3 separate regions of the Homo sapiens genome follow, and all the other regions are linked to region 3. Evidence: fine-mapped expression QTL. A gene starts in region 3. Each other region holds a variant in brackets. All regions are shown on one strand. Distances are between the middles of the regions.

Region 1 (7,619 bases), 27 kb after region 3:
TCGCCTCTTGTTGAGTAGACTCCAGCTCCATTGGAGAAGAGATGATCTTACCTGGGCTGTGTTTTCTTGCTAGCTTGAGGGTTGAAAACACTAGGTTTTTGTCTCCTTTTCCAGTTGAGTTAGGGAAGTGACATGCATTGCCACAAAACAATTCCTTCAGTTCTGGAGTCCTTAGACAGACTGTCATCTTACTAGCACCTTCCAGCATTCTCCTTTCAGTGAGATAAGGGAAGGTTCCTAATCTAAAAGGAAACATGGAATGGTGTTCTTATATTGTATGACAAGAAATATGAAATATTTCTGAAAAATTTAGTCATTCTTCTTTTAAATTTAGAAACCTGTTTTTTATATTTATAATATTTCAAGCCATTAAAAATTAGGATGTCATAATTGAAATAATCTTTTAACATTTTACATTAATTAGCATTTAGCAGATGACCATAACAAATTATTTTTAATTATGTTACATTAATTGCCAATACAGATTTCTTTCTGGTTATTACAAATCTGTTTGCAAAATTTTATTTTGTCATTTATTAAATTTTTGTATAATTAGTTGCTACATTGCAGGTATAGGAACTTCCAATATTAAGCATGATTACAAATACCTCAGTTTTCGTGTCTTTTTATTAATAGTCTAAAACTTATAAAATGCTTTGTGCATTTTATAAGTTATTGGTATAAGTTATAATGTTATTTTATAAGTTATTGGTATAAGTTATAATGTTATTGGTAACATTCTTTAGTATGAATTATCATTTGAAAAATGTTAAGAACATAGCTTTCCCATCTTATTTATTTTCTTGAGGTGGAGTCTCACTCTGTCGCCCAGGCTGGAGTGCAGTGGCGCGACCTTGGCTTACTGCAACCTCTGCCTCCTGGGTTCAAACTATTTCTCCTGCCTCAGCCTCCTGAGTAGCTGGGATTACAGGCACGGTCCACCACGACCGGCTAATTTTTGTGTCTTTAGTAGAGATGAGGTTTCACCATATTGGTCATGCTGGTCTCGAACTACTTACCTCAGGTGATCCACCTGCCTCGGCCTCCCAAAGTGTTGGGGTTACAGGTGTGAGCCACCACGCCAAGCCTATTTATTTTAGATACAGTGTCTTCCTCTGTTGACCAGGTTGAAGTGCAGGGGTGTAGTCATAGCTCACTGCAGGCTCAGACAGTCCTTCTGCCATGGCTTTCCAAAGTGCTGGGATTACAGGCATAGGCCACTGCACCTGGCCTAAATTGTGATAATTTTACAGTTTGCCTCAAACGAGGGTTGATGTCTGGGCAAGGTCTGCTGGGGGCCTCCCATATGCAGGCAGTCTCTCTGCTGTGCCCTCCACCAGCACTGAGGGTCACCTGCCCACAGGCACCCCTCTCCTTTCCCCTCTGGGGAAGGCCAGAAGTGACTTTTGAGGTTACCTGAGGGTCTTTGTCTGGAAAAGGGTGTGAAGCTGAAGCCGATGGCCTCAGTGTCCAAAGGGGAACACTTCCCACAGGCGTTGGGAAGCCACAGGCCTGACAGTGGGGTCCTGGTCTTGGCGGTCTCAGTCACCTGGCCACCCATTCCTTCCTCACTTAGGCATCCACCTGGCGGGCTGCCCACACCCTCTTCTGTCTGTGCTCAGCCAATCAGGCAAGCCAGGGTTACAGCCCTCCCTGTCCTGGGCCCTGGCTCCATGAAGCACCATGTGCCTTGGAAGACCTCCCCGATTGATCCTGTCTCCCCAGTATCTTCTGCTAAGGCAGAGGTTTCCCTGGGCCCCTGCTCTGGTCCGCTTCCTTGGCACAGTTTGTAGCTGTGCCTGACACAGCCCACCTGCCTGGCTTCTGTCTCAAACCCACAGCCAGGCCATGTGACAGCCGCTGCCTGTGCCCAAACATTCATCCAGCCCCACCCAGGAGAGCCAGACAGGCACTCATACCCTCACCCACACACCCCCACCCACACACCCCCACCCGCACACCCTCACCTGCACAATGTCACCCACACACCCTAACCCGCCTGGCCCTGCTGCGCCCCCACCCCACTCTCCCTCTAAACCTACTGGGGGAGCAGCTTCCCCTATATTTGCTTGCTCCACCTCCTCCTAGAGCTGGGTCACATACCAATTCCCACACTCTTGGCAGGTTGGTCATGGCCCTGGCAGGTCTGAGGACAGGATGGACACAGGACTGTGTGTAGCATAGAAAGGTCAGGGAGTGCAGCCTCCTACTCTGTGCCAGCTGCCAGCCCCGGAGCTTACTAGGCTGATGGGGACAAAGAATGCACCAGAGGGGACAGTGACCATTGTCCCTGGGTTAGTCCACCACAGGACTGATGGGAAGTTCATGGATGTACTGATTGCCCTGTTGCATTTGTCCTCAGGGGCGGATGCTGAGATGGAGTTAGGAGAGCAAAGGGGAGGAAGGGAGCTGGGCATGGTGGCTCATGCCTGTAAATCCTAGCACTTGGGGAGGCCCAGGTGGGAGGATTTCTTGAGGCCAGGAGTTTGAGACCAGCCTGGGCAACATAGCAAGACCCTGTCTCTACCAAAAAAAATTAAAAATTAGCCAGGTGTGGTGGCTGTATTCCCAGCTACTTGGGAGGCTGAGGTGGGCGGAACAGTTGAGCCTAGGAGTTGTCAATAGAAATCAAGTGTTGGGATATTGAGAATAGCAGCATAATGAGGGTCCAGAGTATGTTCTTAATACTAATGGTATAATTTCGAGCTTCTGATATATACACAAACATGTATAGCTACACCAGGGATTGTGCTCAAGATTTGACTTACATTAGCTTGTTTAAGCCTCTTCCACACACTATTTGAGGCAGGTACTGTTGTTATCATTTTATGGATGACAAAACTTAGAAGCAGAGCATTTAGGAAACTTGCCCAAGATCACACAGCCATGAAGCAGACACCAGAACCAGAGCCCTAGGCTCGCAAACTTCACTGCCTTCACTCCTAGGCTGTATGTTATTCTGACCATCTCTCAGCCAGGAAGTCACTCCCTTATGCAAATGACATTGTCTGTGCTGATGGTTAAATATTTCTATTCTCACAACATGTGAAAGAGAGAGCCTGATTTGTTAGCTAAGCCCCAAGGGTTTCTCCTACCATTTCAGAGAGAGAGAAACTTTTCTTTGCCCCTAAACTGTGGCAAAGAAAACAGAGAGGAGGAAACAGCCATCAGAAGACTAAAAATCTCTCATCTCTGCAAATAAGAATTCACTCTAACTGAGCTTTTCTGCATGCAGCACTGGGAAGAGACCTTGTTTTTTATTCTATCAACTTACCCATTTAACAATTTATTGAGAACCTGTTGTGTACCTGATGCACTGCTGGCATTGGGTATGTAAAAATCAATGCAGCATGGTCCTTTCCCCAAGCAACTCAGTTTCCTGCTTGGTTCTCTTTTCTGGATCATTTTAATTATGGTTCACCTTTTAAGTAAAGGACAAACAGAGAAGTAGCACTGAGTCAGATTTTTGCCACTAGTCTTATACAGGTGACATATTTTTCTTAATGCTCCCCACACATGGGATCTGAGCCAGCTGAGCCCTGAAACCTCCCAGGCTGAGAACGTAGTGTGGCACTTCACATGAGACTGCGCAGAAGTTGATACAACTGGCATGTTAGCCACAGGAACTCTGCCAAGCGTTCGGGAATAGAAGGGGTGGACAGGACCCCACCTGCTTTTCCTAATCTCATGGGTATCAGGCACCAGGCAGCCTTGCCCCTGGAATGAGACATCTCAGGTAGGGGTTGTCACTGTTCCAAGCTTCCTTTGATGCCGTTTTGATCCTGGATGTAGAGTTGCCACGTGGAGAGCGAAACCACCAGAATATATAATTGAGAAAGGAATGGAAAGATGGACAGATACCTAAATAGATACATAAATACTTTGCAGAAGTCTGGGACAGTGGAACGTAGGAAGAGAGCCTCAGATAGAGAGAGAACAGTAGGTTGATTGTGGTAAAGGGAAGGCTTCACTTTGTTATTCAATATAGTTATTTATTGACTTGTTTAAACAATATGTATGTCTTTAAAATTAAAAGATAATTTGGGGCCGGGCATGGTGGCTCACACCTGTAATCCCAGCACTTGGGGAGGCTGAGGTGGGGTGGATCACGAGGTCAGAAGTTTGAGATCAGCCTGGCCAGTATGGTGAAACCCCATCTCTACTAAAAATACAAAAAGTTAGCTGGGCCTGGTGGCAGGCACCTGTAATCCCGGCTACTCAGGAGGCTGAGGCAGGAGAATCACTTGAACCTGGGAGGCGCAGGTTGTAGTGTGGTGAGATCACGCCACTGCACTCCAGCCTGGGCGACAGGAGCGAAACTCTGTCTCAAAAAACAAAACAAAAC[A/C]AAACCTTGCATCCTTTCAGGGGGCTCACACCTCCCTAAGGGCCCAGTAATTAAACCCTTTGGGCCTGAGGGTGAGAAACTTTGTCTCAGTTCTTCCCCAAGTGATCAGCCCAGGTGTAAGGAAGGAGAAGCCAGAAAGCAGGACCCATGAGAAGGGCCCCCTCCTGGAGTTTGAGGCCCACTCCCTCCTGCCCCTGCCTCTCCTCTGTCCAGGACTCCTCCCTGCTCTGCCCCACTCCTGGGGCCATAACCATGGGGAGCTGTGGTTTTCTACAGGCCCCTGGGCACAAAGTGGGCAGGCTCACCTGGAGGCGATCAGAGTAACATGGCAGGAAGTGAGGGGGAAAGCCGCCCTGGAACTGCGCCTCTCTGCCCCCTGACGTCACTGGCGTGCACTCCTCCCTCCCCTCATTCAGGCAGTGGCATGAGTTCCATGTGAGCGCTGTCCTGCTCCCTCTGCTGCCTCTTTTTTTTCTTGGGGCTGCCATAACACTTTCCCTTCCCCAGCCCTGCCAACCTGGTGGGACATTGGGCTTCCCTCTCACAGGGTCCTGGGGACAGGCCCATCCTTTATCATACGCACAGAGAGACCGTTTTTTCCTTCAGGACCTGGGGAGCAGCCAGGTTCCATGAGTTAAATGCAGATCTGAACCAAGCTGGGATTGGGGTACACACTCTCCTCTACTGAAAAGTAGCTAGGGATTCCAACTAGGTGAGAAGGAGAGTGGGGCAGAGCCAGACCAGACAAGGACTGATCACCTGGAAAAAGCCTGCCATCAAAGGTCTTGGCAAATGCTGGGTGCAGTGGCTCACTCCTGTAATACCAGCACTTTGCGGGGCTGAGACAGGTGGACTACTTGAGGCAAGGAGTTCGAGTCCAGCCTGGGCAACATGGCAAAACCACATCTCTACTAGAAATACAAAAATTAGCTAGGCATGCTACACTCCTGTAATCCCAGCTACTCAGGAGACTGAGGCAGGAGAATCACTTGAACTGGGGAGGCAGAGGTCGAAGTGAGCCGAGATTGTGCCCCTGCACTCCAGTCTGGGAGACAGAGTGAAACTGGCCTCAAAAAAAAAAAAGAATATGGCCTTGGCAGAGAGGGGCCAGCCCAGCAGTGCCTTCCCTTGGGTTTCTCCTGGGTAGGCCTCTGCCATGAGGAGGTGCTTCCTTCTGCCTGTCCATGGCCCACAGCAATGGAATGTCTGCTTCTGGGGGTTGGGTGGGAGACTGCTGGCAGAACTGGAAACCTTCAGGTGGGGTTTTTTTGTTTTGTTTTGTTTTCGAGATGGAGCGTCGCTCTGTCACCCAGGCTGGAGTGCAGTGGTGGAATCTCAGTTCACTGCAACCTCCGCCCCCCTGGGTTCAAACAATTCTCCTGTCTCAGCCTCCTGAGTAGCTGAGATTACAGGCATGTGCCACCATGCCCGGCTAGTTTTTGTATTTTTTGTATAGATGGCATTTCACCATGTTGGCTGGGCTGGTCTCGAACTCCTGACCTCAAGTGATCCACCCACCTCGGCCTCCCAAAGTGCTGGGATTACAGGCATGAGCCACTGAGCCCAGCCCCTTCAGGGGGGTTTTGAGGCTTCACTACAATACTAGTTTCCTGTGGCTGCTGCAACAAATTACCACACACTTAGTGACTTAAAACAACCAAAATGTATTCCCTTACAAGTCTGAAGGCCAGAATTCTACAGTAAGTCCTTCTGAGTCAAGGTGGGAGCAGGGTTGGTGGCTTCTGAGGCTCTGCGGGAGAATCTGTTTCCTGGCCGTAGAGGTGGCCTGCACTCCTCAGCTTGTGCTGCCCGTCTTGAATGACTGGAGTTTCCTGCTTCTGTCACTACACCTCCCACCCTCTCCATCACCTGCTCTGCTCTTACAAGGATCCGAGTGAGTACATCAACCCCAAAAGCCAAAGACCCTTAACTTCATTATATCTGCAAAGCCCCTTTTGCCATATAAGGTCATGTTCACCAGTTCCCGGGATTAGGATATGGGCATCTGGGGGGCATCAGCCTGCTACAGCTAGGCTGCAAAACTGTTACACCCTCCTGGTGTTTCAGTGATTGGGAGAAAAAGGGTTGGCATTTTTTGCTTAGAGGTCCCTCTTAAACTTGTATCTGTAAGGTCGGGGGTCCCTCTTAACCTTGTGTTTTTGTTTTTGTTTTTTTTTGAGGTGGAGTCTTGCTCTGTCATCCAGGCTGGCAGTGGCGTGATCTTGGCTCACTGCAATGTCTGCCTCCTGGGTTCAGGTGATTCTCCTGCCTCAGCCTCCTGAGTAGCTGGGACTACAGGCGCCCGCCACCATGCCCTGCTGTTTTGTATTTTTGGTAGGGACGGGGTGGGGGTGGGGCTAGGGAGGGGGCTTTTGGCTATGTTGCCCTGAGCTCAAAGTGATCCGCCTGCCTCTGCTGCCAAAGTGCTGGGATTACAGGCCTGCACCACTGCACCCGGCTGCTGTAAAGTCTTATTTCACACAGCTGAGACATGTTTTAGGAAGTTTGCTAAAAGACCCCTGGAGACCGCCTCATTGTGACCTCCCTGTTATTGTGTTTAATTTGATTGAACTTCTCTGCCCTCCTGCTTTTCAGCTTCTCTAATAGTCTCCCATTAAACCATTCTAAGAACCACCAAAAAGGGGAAATTTTTTCTTGAAAGCAGTAAAATGATATGGACTGTTAGAATGTAAAATATATGAAATCAGTCATTATACGTTAGTGCTGCTCTGACATAGGGACGTATTATTGAGAAGCAACTTTTGCTTGATTTTCAGAGAAATGGAATCATCGTATCGCTGATCTATGTAAACAAACTGAAGAATTGTCTGAAAGAAAATATGGTATGTCTAAACTGGAAAAGTCCTGTAATCTTATGTTCATGGGCGTTTACACAATGGAGTTACTGTTCATCATGGGGGTACCGTGGACAAGCCCAGGGCTGCCGGCGAGTCATGCCATCCTTACACGTTTCTCCTTGTAAGGTGCTTTGTAGTGTCTACACACTTTGTTTCTAGATTGCTGCAAAGCTGAGGAAAAGTTGTATTTCTTTAGTTATTAGTTAGCATTTCTTTTAAACTTTCAGTATGGAGATTGGAAATTTATTTACATATTTATTGCAAAGCCCTGAATCTTAGGGATTTCATTGAATTATTTATTTATTTTTTTTGAGACAGAGCCTCACTCTGTCGCCCAGGCTGGAGTGCAGTGGCACGATCTCGGCTCTCTGCAACCTCCGCCTCCCGGGTTCAAGCAGTTCTCTGCCTCAGCCTCC
Region 2 (7,619 bases), 22 kb before region 3:
TGATGCAGATTTTAGCTGAGGGATTTGGAAGCCATTTGGGGAGGCAGGCTGGGCCAAAGGGTAGAGCTGGGTAATAAATGTCTATTCTCCTGGGGAGGAGGGATTCTAAACTTTCCTTCCGTCCTCAATTTCTACCTCCATAGACCGGCCAGAATTTAGCTTCACTTGAGAGAGATCTGGAATGGTCGCCATGATTGAAACCACGCACCATTACATCATCATTACATTAATTACATCAACATAAATTATTTCTTCCCCCTTCCCTTTTCCAGCACTCAACCAAGGAGCAAAGCTCATCCCACCCCACACCCCTCCCAGGTCTGCTCACTGCCAGGCTCCTCTCCCCTTTGTTCAGTGGAGCTGGCTTTTCTCCCAGCCCCTTTCCATGCCTTTCACTCCATTTGGCAAGCTCTGAGGGGGAGCCTGGGGACGGGTTTGGGTCCCCAGGAGGAGAGCCTTGGGTATAATCTATTTTTCTAGGAGCCTCTTGCCTTGTCACTTGCAGCTTTCGCCCTCTGCTTTGATGGCTGAGGTGAACTCATGTTCTTTGGGAAAAGGGAAGGCGTGCTGTGGAAATAAAATGTTTATTTGCTTCTCTTGTGAGGTCTGTTCCTTCAGGTGAGGGTGTAACTCAGGATTTCTTCCTTTGCCGCCCCTGCAGTGAGAAGCCACACAACTGAACTGGTTAGTTGCAGTTAAAGGCATGCTTTGCACCTGTTACCAGGCAGGCTCCTATTTCAACAGGGATGTGGACCCTGCTCCCCATTTTAATATCTTAACCTAACTTACTAACTGTTCAGTCTACTTAGAGATGTTTGCCACACGTAGTTGAAACTGAAGCCAGAAATGCCTCATCACCATTATAAATTGAGGGGAGTAGGAAGTGGAGGGTGCATGTGGGCCTTCAATATGCTGTAGTTGCTTAGCACAGAAAATTGCAAGGGTAGTGGGGTCTCAGCCGCATGTTGAACCATTCCATCCCTGTACTGAGGTTTCTATTGGAAACTGTAATTGTAGTTTAATGGCTCACTTCTGGCCTTTCACAAGGCATCTATCCTCATGAATAAACTGTGTTTGTGTGTAGGGGGATTGAGGGCCAGGTTATAGTAGCAGTTGAAATGTTTAGTAGGGCCAACTTTATGGTTCTATTTATGAATGCTTCCAGACCAACCACCCCAAAACTTTTGACCTGAGGAATAAATTAGTTTTGAATTAAGTTCTTCTGGTGAGAACTGCCTTGCTTAAAGAATTAAAAACCCTTGACTTTCCTCAAAGACCATGTTGACAGAGACTGCTAACATGAAGCTTAAGTTTTCTGAATTATGTTCAAATCTTTAGAGGAATGAGGATTCATCTTCCACTCTTACGTGTCAGGGGTTGGACCTGCGGAGTCTGCTTTTTCTAAAAATTGACTGCAACCACTTTGAAATCAGTTCTTTCCCTCAAGAAGGTTCCCCAGGTTGAAGGTAGGCCCTGATGATCTGCACGTGGTATGTAGGACGCTGATGGGGTTTAAGTTCAGGGAAACTGCTATGTGACTTCTCACAAACATCCCACCTGATGCTACCCCAATCCTGAGAACTTAGACGGACAGCTCCCCTTCAAAGCCTTGTTTACTTAGTCCATACCTTGCATCCAGTTCGCTAGTGCAAACTTAATGTGTAAGCAATGTAGATAGAATGGAGCTTTTTTGCATATAAGAAAAAAAAACCTAAAAGTCAGAAAAGCCAGTTTTTTTTTTATTTGTAAAGCTCTGCCATAAACTTCTAGCGTGTGCCAATGGTCACCTGCCACACTCGCACCAGGTTGTCCGTGTAGCCAGCAAACAGAGTCTGCAGGGAAGAAATGACAGTGACAGGTCAGGCTGGCATAAATTCTGCAGTCTCACTAGATTCAGCCCAAGTGGCTTTTTTTGAGATCCGTCCACCTTGCTCCATTGTCTAGGCTGGAGTGCAGGGGTGCGATCCTGGCTCACTACAGCCTTAAGCCCCTGCAGTTCAAGAGATCCTCCCACCTCAGCCTCCAGTAGGCATGTGCCACAACGCCGGGTAGACTGTAAGAAACCGCTCTCATTTCAACAGCCAGCTTGTAAGTGGTGGTTATGTATTCCTTGAGGAAGAAACAGCTGGTGATAAGGCTCCAGACATTTGAAAACTGGTCAGATTAATTAAGGTATTAATTGAAGGCTGACAGCCACTGCGTTCCACATCAGTCTTCCCTCTGATGCAGAAACACATTCACTGGCATGGCAAACGAGGGCATCCTCATCAACCTGGCTTGTCATTTCACTTTATGCCAAGGACACTGCTCTTGTGTCTGACAGACTAGATATACTAACAGAATGAGAGGGAGAAAATTAACTGGAAGCAGAATCACCTGAGAGGACAGACCCACTTACCTGGCCATCAGCAGACCAGGCCAGGGAGGTGCACTGGGGTGGTTCTGCCTTGCTGCTGGTACTGATAACTTCTTGCTTCAGTTCATCTACAATGATCTTTCCCTCTAAATCCTGGGGAACAGGGCAAAAGCAACCTTAAGACTTACCAATCAAGAGAGTCTCCTCTTAAAAGCCCCTCAAGATTCTCAAGTTAAAAAGGGATGATTTTGCTCCCTGGGGTCCATGTATCAATGCCTACATGCATTTTCAGTTGCCACTAGTGGAAGGATGGTTTGCTACTGACATCTAGTAGAAGCTGGAAATGCTGCTAAACATCCTGGAATGTACAGGACTGCACACCACAACAGAGTTACTCAGACCAAAATGTCATTACGTGGAGGCTGAGAAAGCTTAGCTCCCAGGTGGGAGTCAGATGGCATATATAATAACCAAAACATTGCCAGGGCTCAGAGTGCAGCCAGGTACCCAGTCAATTGTAACCCACACTCACCCAGATCTTGATGCTGGGGCCTGTGGCAGCACACAGCCAGTAGCGGTTAGGGCTGAAGCACAGGGCGTTGATGATGTCCCCACCATCTAGCGTGTAAAGGTGTTTGCCTTCGTTGAGATCCCATAACATGGCCTGGCCATCCTGGACACAGGTAAGGTAAATCAGGACACTGTGACCTCTTCCAGATGTTAATTCTGCCCATCTCAAGATTCTGTCAGAATCAATTCTTACCTTTCCTCCATTACCCCAGGCTTCTTTGAAAGCTAATGACTCAAGTACCAATATTTATCTCTGTATACCTTTCCTTTAACGTAAGACCTTACCAACCCCATCAAAAAACCCCTCCCAACTTACATAAATCACTCCAATCATTTCTGAAAACCAGGATCCCAATCTCATCAACTGCTTCAAGAAACCAACTTTAGGCTGGGTGCGGTGGCTCATGCCTGTAATCCCAGCACTTTGGGAAGCCGAGGTGGGCGGATCACCTGAGGTCAGGAGTTCAAGACCAGCCTGGCCAACATGGTAAAATCCTCTCTACTAACATACAAAAATTACCCAGGAGTGATGGCGGGTGCCTGTAATCCTAGCTACTCGGGAGGCTGAGATGGGAGAATTGCTTGAACCCGGGAGATGGTTGCAGTGAGCCGAGATCGCGCCACTGCACTCCAGCCTTGGCAGCCGAGTGAGACTCCGTCTCAAAAAAAAAACAAAAAACAAACAAACAAAAAAACAACAAAAAAAACCCACAGGCTTATAGAAAATCATCTTTTTCTTCCAGATAGTATGCCTTAACTGTCATTTGCTGAAAGTAATCTTTGGAAACATATTCTCAGATTGCCATTATCTCATTATCCTCCTAAAACCATCTTGGCTAATGTTTGCCATTTTACGTTAGAGACGCTGGCTAAGTGCTCCTTCCATGACGCTGTCTTCCACTGAGTAGGAGACGCCTTGTCCCCAAATACCTTGCCTCCAGAAGCACAGAGGGATCCATCTGGAGAGACAGTCACCGTGTTCAGATAGCCTGTGTGGCCAATGTGGTTGGTCTTCAGCTTGCAGTTAGCCAGGTTCCATACCTGCATAGACGTGCGGTTGACAGGTGAACATCCTAGCTCTTGATGAGCTAGGGTCAGGCCCAACAAAAAAGGGCTTGGCACTTCTGGATACGGTAGCCATTTCTCATTCAGTAACATGTCCTGGCCACTTCACGTTAGATTATAACACATATCCAATGCAGTGTGCTGACTTACAAGGGACATCAGACCATGTGACAAGAGAAAGAGTCAACTGAGGGCATCTGCAAAGCTTTCCACAGGACTTGGAGTGTATGACCACCTGGGAGCACACCCTGACTGGTAAAGCCCCTGCCTTGGCTTGACGCTCACCTTGACCAGCTTGTCCCAGCCACAGGAGACGATGATAGGGTTGCTGCTGTTGGGCGAGAAGCGGACACAAGACACCCACTCTGAGTGGCTCTCATCCTACAGAAGATGGAAAGGAAATTAGGGCAAACAGTCCTATCCCATGAAATGCTAGACCTCCCAGCCCTACCCCTCAGTAGGATGATGGCTGGCAGCACCTTTCAAAAACCAAGAACCCAAACCTTTAAGCTCAATAGAATCCCTTTAGATTCCAGACAAGAAAATTTTTTAAAAATTTAGAGATGGTGGCTGGACGCAGAAGCTCACGCCTCTAATCCCAGGGAGGGCGAGGTAAGTGGATCACCTGAGGTCAGGAGTTTGAGACCAGCCTGGCCAAAATGGTGAAACCCTGTCTCTACCAAAAATACAAAAATTAACCAGGTGTGGCGGCGGGTGCCTGTAATCCCAGCTACTGGGGAGGCTCAGGCAGGAACACTGCTTAAACCCAGGAAGCGAAGGGTGCAATGAGCCAAGATTGTGCCATTGCACTCCAGCCTGGGCAACGAACAAGTGAAACTTCATCTCCAAAAAAAATATAATAATAATAATAGGGCCTGGTGTGGTGGCTCACGCCTGTAATCCCAGCACTTTAGGAAGCCAAGGTGGATGGATCATGAGGTCAGGAGATCAAGACCATCTTGGCTAACATGGTGAAACCCTGTCTCTACTAAAAATACAAAAAATTAGCCAGACCTGATGGCAGGCGCCTGTAGTCCCAGCGACTCGGGAGGCTGAGGCAGGAGAATGGCGTGAACCCGGGAAGCAGAGCTTGCAGTGAGCCGAGATCGCAC[T/C]ACTGCACTCCAGCCTGGGCGACAGAATGAGACTGTCTCAAAACAAAACAAAATAGTAGTGATAAGGCCGGGCACGGTGACTCACGCCTGTTATCACAGCAGTTTGGGAGGCTGAGGCGGGCGGATCACCTGAGGTCAGGAGTTTGAGACCAGCCTGGCCAACATGGTGAAACCCCATCTCTACTAAAAATACAAAAATTAGCTGGGCATGATGGCACACGCCTGTAATCTTCTCAGACACCCAACCATCGGCTTCTGAGCTGCGGCAACTCCCTTTCACCTTTTCACCGCCCCCCACCCATCCCCAAATCCCCGATCCAGCCCCCAATCTGCGATCCCAAATCTGCGATCTAGCCCAGAATCCATCTCAAAAAAGAAAAAAAATAAATAAAATTTTGTTTAAATAGATGGGGTCTCACTATGTTGGCCAGGCTGCTCTCCTGTCCTCAAGCAGTCCTCCCACCTTGGCCTACCAGAGAGCTAGGATTACAGGCGTGAGCCCAGCCCAGACAAGACTTTAAAAAGGCAAAGAAAGCGGGGGACGGTGGCTCACGCTTATAATCCCAGCACTTTGGGAGGCTGAGGCGGGCAGATCACCTGAGGTTGGGAGTTCAAGACCAGCCTGACCAACATGGAGAAACCCTGTCTCTACTAAAAATACAAAACCGGGCATGGTGGCGCATGCCTCTAATCCCAGCTACTTGGGAGGCTGAGGCAGGAGAACTGCTTGAACCCAGGAGGCGGAGGTTGTGGTCAGCCGAGATCACGCCATTGTACTTCAGCCTGGGGAACAAGCGAAACTGTCTCCGAGAAAAAAAAAAAAAAAGGCAAAGATAGGCAGGTGGGGGCTCACGCCTGTAATCCCAACACTTTGGGAGGGCGAGGCAGGCAAATCGCCTGAGCCCAGGAGTTTGAGACCACCCTGGGCAACATGGTGAAACCCTGTCTCTACTAAAACACAAAAAATTAGCTAGGCGTGGTGGCTGCGCACCTGTAGTACCAGCTACTCGGGAGACTGAGGCACCAGAATCCCTTGAGCCCGGGAGGCAGAGGTTGCAGTGAGCCGAGACTGCGCCACTGCACTCCAGCTTGGGCAAGAGTGAGACTGTCGCCAAAAAAAAAAAAAAAAAGCAAAGTTTAAGAGGGTGGAAGAGATCCTTGGAGATGGCTCACTTTACCTGGACAGTGTATTTGCACACACCCAGGGTATTCCATAGCTTGATGGTTTTATCTCGAGATCCAGAGACAATCTGCCGGTTGTCAGAGGAGAAGGCCACACTCAGCACATCCTTGGTATGGCCCACAAATCGCCTCGTGGTGGTGCCCCTGAGAGGGAGGAGTTTGTCATTCTCAGACTTAGCAAACACTCTCATTCAACGGTCAGACTCATTTCCTGGGCTTTGTCTCTGTCTCATTGCATCACTCATACAACCCTGGATTTGGCTCTGATCACAGAGTCAAGTGACTGAGTATATGAAAGAGAAGAGCCAAGTGACAGAGAATCCCTTCAGAATTGCAGGACATGTCCTCACTCCCACTTGGGGATTGGCTGACAATGCCATCTGTCATCACCAGGACCCTCTAATTCCACCTGCCAATTACCTGAGCTTTCAAGGTAAAACATGTTCAAACTGCTGCCCACTCAGAACTTTTGCACCTGGCAAAAATGTTCAGCCACACTCCTCAGCAATGCTGAGTAACTTATTTAAAGTGAGGGAGGCCAAACATCTTCTGTAGGTGTGCTCTGCTTTCCAGTTCCCAAATGGACTGGATCTCCCCTGGGAAACCAGCCAATTGCATCCACCTCACTTCTGCCCAGATTCTTCCCAAGGCCCCAGAGCTAAGTGAGCAGCTACTTGCGTTGTGAGATCCCAGAGGCGCAGGGTTCCATCCCAGGAGCCTGAGAGGGCAAACTGGCCATCTGAGGAGATAACCACATCACTAACAAAGTGGGAGTGACCCCGCAGAGCACGCTGTGGAATTCCATAGTTGGTCTCATCCCTGGTCAGTTTCCACATGATGATGGTCTTATCTAAAGGAGGTAAAACAGAAGAAAAATCAGTGAGGAACCCGCAGCCCGTTTAACACACTGGATAATTCACTAAGTGTCAAGGTCATGAGTGGGTTAACAACAACTAAGGACGCTTAAGGAGGGATGGAAACAACAGACAAGAGCAGTTACAGACCAGGACTGAGTGGCTCTATTCCAGACTAAAAACGCACGTAGAGGTAAACTGTACCCTGATAACTTTTTTTTTTCTTGAGATGGAGTCTCGCTCTGTCGCCCAGGCTGGAGTGCAGTGGCATGATCTCGGCTCACTCCAAACTCCACCTCCCGTGTTCAAGCAATTCTCCCGCCTCAGCCTCCCAAGTAGCTGGGATTACTTGGCCAGCTGGCACCTGCCAGCACGTCTGGCTAATTTTTTAACTAGAGATGCGGTTTCACCATTGGCCAGGCTAGTCTCTAACTCCTGATCTCAAGTGATCCACTCGCCTCTGCCTTCCAAAGTGCTGGG
Region 3 (7,619 bases):
TTGACCTCAAAACAATAAAACTGTCCTGGTTATGCAATAGAAATAGCTATATAAATGGAATCATATCCTTAATGAACACCTCCTGTGGCTACCCAACTTTTCACACATCTTACTGATTATAGGCCTTGCTGTGAATGCTTTCTTGCTCTATCTGAAGTATTCCCACCAGAGTTGTTTCCAACTTTATTTCCTATATTATGAAAAATGAAGTTTTTTTAACATTGTAACAAAGTATATGAAAGATAATGTATACTGTATTAAATAAACCATTATACAAAAATAGTTCCTTGTACTGTTAACTATTATTATGACTTTGGTCAGTAAAATTCTAAATCATGCGACTATAATTTACATGTTTACCAATGGAAGGAAGTGACAATGAACTGCCTAAAGAATGAAAGAGACACCCAGGCATGGTGGCTCACATCTGTAATCCCAGCACTTTGGGAGGCCGAGGCGGGGGGATCAGGAGGTCAAGAGATTGAGACCATCCTGGCCAACATGGTGAAACCCCGTCTACACTAAAAATGCAAAAATTAGCTGGGCATGGTGGTGCGCACCTGTATTCCCAGCTACTTGGGAGGCTGAGGCAGGAAAATCGCTTGAACTCGGGAGGCGTAGGTTGCAGTGAGCCGAGATCGCACCACTGCACTCTAGCCTGATGACAGAGCGAGACTCCAGCTCAAATAAATAAGTAAATAAATAAATAAATAAAAATAAAAAAAGATTTGTGTCTTAACTGTGCACTTAACAATATTTACTATAAAATGGGGGAAGGGGATGATGATAAAAGTTAGCTGAGGAAGGCTGGGCACAGTGGCTCATGCCTGTAATCCCAGCACTTTGGGAGGCCCAGGTGGTGGATCTCCTGAGGTCAGGAGTTCAAGACCAGCCTGGCCAACATGGTGAAACCCCATCTCTACTAAAAATGCAAAATTAGCTGGGCATGGTGGCATGTGCCTGTAATCGCAACTACTAGGGGTGCTGAGGCAGGAGGATCGCTTGAACCCGGGAAACGGAGGTTGCAGTGAGCCGAGATCATGCCATTGCACTTCTGCCTGGGCAACAGAGCAAGATACCGTCTCAAAAAAAAAAGTTAGAAGAGAAATGGAAGGTTCTCTCTTTTCCTCAGCTTCAGTATACTAAAACCCAGAAGCATAGGACATAAGTTTTTTCCATGGGATACTTTAGTTATCACCTTGGGTGAAAACATGGTACTAGGATTTGTCCTTCAAGTCAGGTTAATGTAACAGAGGTAGCAGTGACTTATGGTTAGATTTGTGCCTTAACTGTGCACTTCCCAATATTTGCTATAAAATGGGGGCAGGGGGGTGATAATAATATCTAATACATGAAGCCTGTAGGACAGTGCTCTGTGTTTGTGTTTTGACTGCAACTCAAAGAAAGCAATATATTTTTAGATGAAGTATATACATGTATATATATATAACTTAAAAGTTTCATAAAGCAGTACTTACCCTTACTATGTTCCATGTGTTCTAATATTTTCTCTTACTTCATTTTGAGATAATGCTAGGCATGACCCATTTATTTTAAGACACACTAATTGGTCAAAAAACAATTTGAAAACCACTGCTATAGGAGAACACGAGGAAATATATTTTATAAACTGTAAAGCACTACTAAGACGTGAGCAGCGGCTGCTGCATATCCAGGTCAACCTTTATGGGCCTGAAGACAACCTCTCCTTCGTTTGGGCACTGCTAGGAGTCAAATCTACCTAGACTTTTGGTAAGGAAGATGGTACTCATGCTCATTGTCATTGAGACAATTATCTAATGCTTAGAAGTCAAGACTAGAAAGCAAGGCATTAACCATATCAGCACCCAAACAAGGGAAGACAAGTTACAAGAAAGCCAAATAAAACAGCAAACATTTGTTTAGTGCTTTATGGTTAACATATATGATCTCTTTTAATCCTTACAATCCTAGGGAAAAAGTGAAGCTCAAGGAGGTTGACACCTGCCCAAGACTAGACAGTAAGTGGCAGAGCCAGGTCATCTGATCCTAAATCCCGCACTCCTTCCACTATGATAAAATACCAGGAAAGAAAAGTGATCAGGATATGAGGCACATTCTGATCCATCAAAGATGCTTATATGCTTTGCCTTTCTCTAGAAGGAAAACGGACCCCACTGAAGGTAGAGATGCAATCCCAGACTTTCAGAGGGGGGGTGTGGCCAATTGCTATCAGTAGTTTAGGACTCACATCTGGCATTTCTGTCTACCAATACATCTATTTTGACACTGCTTGTGCTGAGGTCCCAAATGTCTATTATCTCCAAGTACTGTGGCTTTCTATTCCTATCTGTACCTGTCCCAGGGAATTGGTCAAGGACTCACATTAGGGAGAAATGAAGTACTGGGTATCTGTTACTCACGTCCCTTACACTTAGGTAGACTGCCAGTATTAGCAGTAGTGGTCCGCTTCCAGTGACCGTCATATTATCTGTTCAGCTTCCTCTGGGGAAGCCAATCTGCCCCAATCTTCATGGTTTTGTGTCTCCTTTTTTACCCATATGACCATCTCTCTCCACCGTGTCTCCCTCATCAAATAAAGAGAAGTTTAGCAACTAAGTACCTGAGGAGGTGGGAAAGGAATGCTACTCATTCCTCAGCTCTCCTAGTTACCTTTCCACTCCCTTCATCCCCCCACATTCCCTCATTTCTCTCACCTGGTACTCCTGCACCACCTCCTCCAAAGGCAGCACGCTGTGCTGTTTGTGGCTCCTGGATTCTCGGCACACCACACAGATGGCCTCTTTGTCCACCTCACAGAAGAGTTTCAGGGCTTCCTGGTGTTTAAAGCACATGCCCTGATCATTACTCCGGTTTCCCCGATAAGGAGTGGGGCACATCTGGCGAATTATCTGGACCATGTTGGCCAGCTGCAAGTTGGGACGAAAGCTGCGACGTGTAAAGCTCTTTCGGCACTGGGGGCAGGTGAACTGCCCTGGAAGGGGCAAGGAAGGAGGCGGGTGGATGTCAGGATACAGCTCTTCATCTTCGTCCTCATCGTATGCTTCCAGTATTTCTTCTTCTCGGTAGACATCAATTCTCAGGTCAGGTCTCAAGCCTCCTAGGTAATAGTCCTGATCTTCCTCTTCTTCTTCTTCCTCCTCGTCCCACATATAGTCTACGTTGTCCCAATTAGTTATACCACTGTCACCGAGCCAGAGTTCATCGTCATCTTGGTCTTGGAACAACTCTTCGTCAGCATTCCCCCGATACAACACCTCTCGAATGGAGCCGTCCCATCCATCCATGGCCCCCACCGCTTCCTCGTCCTCCTCCTCCTCCCATTCATCTTCCTCCTCGTTCTGGTCCTCCTCGTCCTCCTTACTCCACAGCTGGGTCACACACCCTCGGCAGAAGTTGTGCCCACAGCTGATGGACACGGGGTCCTTGAAGTAATCCAAGCAGATGGCACACACCGCTTCCTCCTGAAGGGTCTGCATGGGGCTGGGAGTAGTGGCATAACCAGCCATCTTAATGCCCGCCGGCAGGTGTAGATACGTCAGCTTGGAGCTGAGGAGCGGGGACGCGCCTGCAGGCCTGCCTCCAAACTACTCTGGTGACCCGAGGCTGTCCTCAACCTTGCTCTTCTTCCTCGGGGCCGCAGGGGAGCTTTGACCCCCTCTCTCAGGGTGCGAACGCCCAGATCCAGACTCACAGCCTCTCTCTGGGATCGGTGGGGACAGAGCAGGCTGCAGCCCCCAGCTGCTCGGTCCTGTCACGTCTCTCGCTACCCTCAGGGTGTGCCCTACACTGCGGCGTCCGCCTCAGATGCAGCCGCTGGCTACCCTGCCCGAGGCGACGCAAAATGACGTCTCGCTCCTGCACACGCTCTGGAGAGACGCTCTAGGCCGGCGGAGGACCACGTCTCTATGGTGTGCCGGGGGCCGCGCGGGCCGGGAGTTGGGTGGGCTGGGGGACAGGCGCGCCCGCGCCGCCCGCTCCAGCTGGGCTAGTGCTGCACATTCCGGCCAGCCCCTCCTCAAGACCCCATTCCCAAGCCCCTTCTCAGCTCCCTCGGGCCGGCAGAGCGGCTCTGATCAGGTCAGCGGCGGACGCCGGGAAGAGGCCCGGCTTGGGAGAGGTGGTTTGGTGGGTTGGCTGGTTCTAGATGGTGGGGGGGTCAACACTTGAGGGGGACTGGGTCTCCGAGCCGTTGTCCAGCCTGAGCCGGAGCCCCAGGAAGGTTAGAGGGAAGGGGGATAAATCTCTCCGGAAGCCCCGCCCGGGCCGGGGCCGAGTTGGTCCGCGGCGGTGGGGAAGCCTGGGACACCACCCTGGTGCTGTCGCCCGTCCCGCCGTCCGCGCTTGGGGTGCCTTTGTGGGGATCCGGGCGCCGCACAGCTGGGAGGGCCTGCCGCCCGGGAGGCTCGGATCCGGGGCGCCCAGTGCCCCCCGCTGCCTTCCGTGAGCCGTCGGGCCCCAGCTCCACGTAGGCCTCAGACCCAGCCCTGTTTCTGCTTGCGGGGCCGCGGCTGCGCAGTATTGCGGCGTCTGCCAGCAAAGCTGCGCCCCGGTCGTGGGTCCCCTGAGGGGGCCGGGGCTCAAGTTCCCTTCGGTGCTGCCGCCTGCGTCGGGCCAGGGTTCCGAGTTCCAGCCCTGAGCTCTGTGAGCTCGGCCGGGAGGGGGCTGGATTTGGGACCACACTTCCTCACCGCCGTGGTTTAGACTTAGTTTGAGAGCGGCTGGCCCCTCCTTCCTGTCCCGGTGTCCTCCGCTGTCTGTTATGCCCTTCACTCCTCCCTGGGGAGGGAGGGCTGGGGGCGCTGTCTGGGTCTGTTTTCCACCCCAGCGGGGCCCTAGGGCAGTGTCATTTAGACTCCACTCTGTCACCTTTCCTGGAGAGGGGACCTGATCCAGGGCTGAGAGGTTTTTTTTTTTTTTTTTTTTTTTGAGATGGAGTCTGGCTGTTGCCCAGGATGCAGTGCAGTGGCGCGATCTCGGCTCACTGCAAGCTCCGCCTCCCAGGTTCACGCCACTCTCCTGCCTCAGCCTCCCGAGTAGCTGGGACTACAGGCGCCCGCCACCACGCCCGGCTAATTTTTTTTTTTTTGTATTTTTAGTAGAAACGGGGTTTCACCCTGTTAGCCAGGATGGTCTCGATTTCCTGACCTCGTGATCCGCCCACCTCGGCCTCCCAAAGTGCGGGCTGAGAGATCTTACAGTGGGAGGGGGAATCAGGCCCTGGGGAAAGGCTTCTCAGGGGTTGTCTCCTTCTGTCTTCTGTCTCTGCAGGTAGGGATAGAACCAGGTCAGGCCTGGATTTGTAGTCCCAGAGAACAGAGGATGGAGATGGGGGCTGGACGCAGCTCAGAGGGGCTGGTGCTCATGGGCTCTGTGTATGCCTTCTCCTGTGGCCTGGTTCTGTGTACAGATGTTCTACCCCAGTGCTGAGGGCCAAGACACCCTCTTGGCCTTGGTGCTGGGGGCATCCTGGGGCAAGGAGTGTAGGCAGAACTCCTCAACATTGGAGATTTGGGGAAATTGTGTCCCCTCCCTTTTAGACTCCTGTAGCCCCCTGCAGTGGCACGATCTGGGCCCACAGCAATCTCCACCTCCTGGGCTCAAGCAGTCCTCCCACTTCAGCTTCTGGAATAGCTGGGAACACAGGCATGCACCACCACTCCAGGCTAATTTCTTTATTTTTTTATAGAGACAGGGTTTCGTCATGTTGCCCAGGCTAAAGTGCCGTGGCTATTTATAGTCACGATTATTGCACCCTACCACCTCAAACTCCTGGACTCAAGTGATCCTCCCGCCTCAGCCTGTGGAGTAGCTGGGACTACAGGCATGCACCACTATGCCTGATTTACCCATTCTCTTTTAGATTTTTTTTTTTTTTGAGAGAGGGTCTTGCTCTGTTGCCCAGGCCAAATGCAGTGGTATGATCATGGCTCATTGCACCCTTGACCCCTGGGCTCAAGTGATCATCCTGCCTCAGCCTCCCAAGTAGCTGGGACTACAGGTGTGCATTACCACATCTGGCTAATTTTTATTATTTTTTTTTTTGTAGAGATGAGGTCCTGCTATGTTGCCCAGGCTAGTCTTGAACTCCTGGTTTAAGCAGTCCTGCCTCAGCCTTACAAAGTGCGGGAATTACAGATGTGAGCCACTACGCTCAGCCCCATACAAGGTTTTTTTTCTTTCTTTACCTGCCCTTCAATAAGAAGTACATTGCACATACTGATCCAATATAGACCTGCACATATATAACAGAAAGAAAATTTCTGCAGTGTTCTTTCCCTTATGACATCCAAAGCACTCTGATATTTTCTGTTTTATTTCAGTAAAATGCTGTTGAAGGCCCACGGGCATGACTGCACCCCTCACTAATTGGTCATTGGTTTGGGGAGGACACCACTGTCCCAGTGGAACCTTGAGCACACCTTGGAGCCCTCCTCTTCCTCTCCGGACCTGTGCCAAACTGTGAGTGGCACAGAGCAAGGACTGTATGTGTTCTCTTCTTTGTTGCATACTCAGTTCCTTGACCACAGTGCCAAGCACACAGCGAGCACTCCCTGTGTATCTGCTGAGTAAATAAACGAATGAACAAACCCAACACATTTCAGCCAAGTCCTGCTGATGTTTCTCCTCCGATCTAGCTCCTCCTTTCCAGCCTTACTTCTGCCACTCCAGATTTCACCCCCATCAGCTTCAGACTGGATAAAAGGAAACCATTTCTCTAAAGGATCACTTGCTCTCTCATTTCAGGCCATCCTGCAGCCACCAGAACCTTCCACATGAAATGAAAGGCTCACCACTTCATAGGCTTTAAGGAAATTCTTGGCCAGGTGTGGTGCCTCACTCATGTAATCCCAGTGCTTTAAGAGGCCAAGATGGGAGGATTGTTTGAGCCAGCTGTTTGAGACCAGCCTGGGCAACGTCATGAGACCCCATCTCCACAAAAAAAAAAAAAAAGAAAATTGGCTGGGTGCGGTGGCTCATGTCTGTAATCCCAGCAATTTTGGAGGCTGAGGCGGGTGGATCACTTGAGGTCAGGAGTTTGAGACCAGCCTGGCCAACATGGTGAAACCCCGTCACTACTAAAAATACAAAAATTAGCCAGGCGTGGCGGCAGGTGCCTGTAATCCCAGCTACTTGCGAGGCTGAGGAAGAATTGCGTGAACCTAGGAGGTGGAGGTTGCAGTGAGCCAAGATCATGCTGCTGCACTCCAGCCTGGGCAACAGAGTGAGACTCCATCTCAAAAATAATAAAAATAAATTAAAAAAATTAAAAATTACCTGCGTGTGATGGTGTGCGCCTGTAGTTCCAGCTACTTGGGAGGCTGAATTGGGAGGATCATTTGAGCCCAGGAGGTCAAGGCTGCAGTAAGCAGTGATGGTGCCACTGCCCTCAGCCTGGGCAACAGAACAACATGCAATCTTAAAAAAAAAAAATCCTGGCCAGGCACAGTGGCTTATGACTGTAATCCCAGCACTTTAGGAGACGGAGGCGGGCAGATCACGAGGTCAGGAGATTGAGACCATCCTGGCTAACACGGTGAAACCCCGTCTCTACTAAAAATACAAAAAATTAGCTGGGTGTGGTGGCAGGCGCCTGTAGTCCCAGCTACTTGGGAGGC

Alleles and levels. Alleles are on the strand shown, and positions count from the first base shown. SD is a standard deviation of normalised expression in the study named. Not every link is listed here.
As copies of A replace C in region 1, the expression in vagina of the gene that starts at base 3,908 in region 3 goes up (moderate effect, 0.56 SD a copy in GTEx).

What was found.
Region 1: its variant is fine-mapped to the expression of TRIM52-AS1 in vagina (GTEx, PIP above 0.99). The same link has a PIP of 0.9 or more in prostate and substantia nigra.
Region 2: its variant is fine-mapped to the expression of TRIM52-AS1 in whole blood (TOPMed, PIP above 0.99).

The regions. Positions count from the first base shown.
Region 1 is chr5:181,284,551-181,292,169 of GRCh38, forward strand. No RefSeq gene overlaps it. Among named protein-coding and RNA genes, the nearest start is that of TRIM52-AS1, 27 kb to the left of the region's middle. RefSeq lists an enhancer at 1-6. The variant A/C (reference allele first, on the strand shown) is at 4,346.
Region 2 is chr5:181,235,211-181,242,829 of GRCh38, forward strand. It overlaps RACK1 (receptor for activated C kinase 1), which reads right to left. Exons shown (of 8, transcript NM_006098.5): 2 at 6,964-7,135; 3 at 6,282-6,429; 4 at 4,277-4,372; 5 at 3,857-3,967; 6 at 2,889-3,029; 7 at 2,399-2,509; 8 at 1,687-1,832. The coding sequence ends at 1,767. SNORD96A (small nucleolar RNA, C/D box 96A) reads right to left here and starts at 6,679; the gene lies at 6,608-6,679. TRIM41 (tripartite motif containing 41) reads left to right here. Exons shown (of 6, transcript NM_033549.5): 6 at 1-598. RefSeq lists enhancers at 917-996, 6,310-6,359. The variant T/C (reference allele first, on the strand shown) is at 5,104.
Region 3 is chr5:181,257,305-181,264,923 of GRCh38, forward strand. It overlaps TRIM52-AS1 (TRIM52 antisense RNA 1), which reads left to right and starts at 3,908. Exons shown (of 3, transcript NR_102762.1): 1 at 3,908-4,080. TRIM52 (tripartite motif containing 52) reads right to left here and starts at 3,839. Exons shown (of 2, transcript NM_001346048.2): 1 at 2,697-3,839. The coding sequence starts at 3,509. CTC-338M12.4 (a long non-coding RNA gene) reads left to right here. Exons shown (of 3, transcript NR_109909.1): 3 at 1-282. RefSeq lists enhancers at 3,540-3,589, 3,770-3,819, 7,551-7,619 and silencers at 3,960-4,109, 4,220-4,469.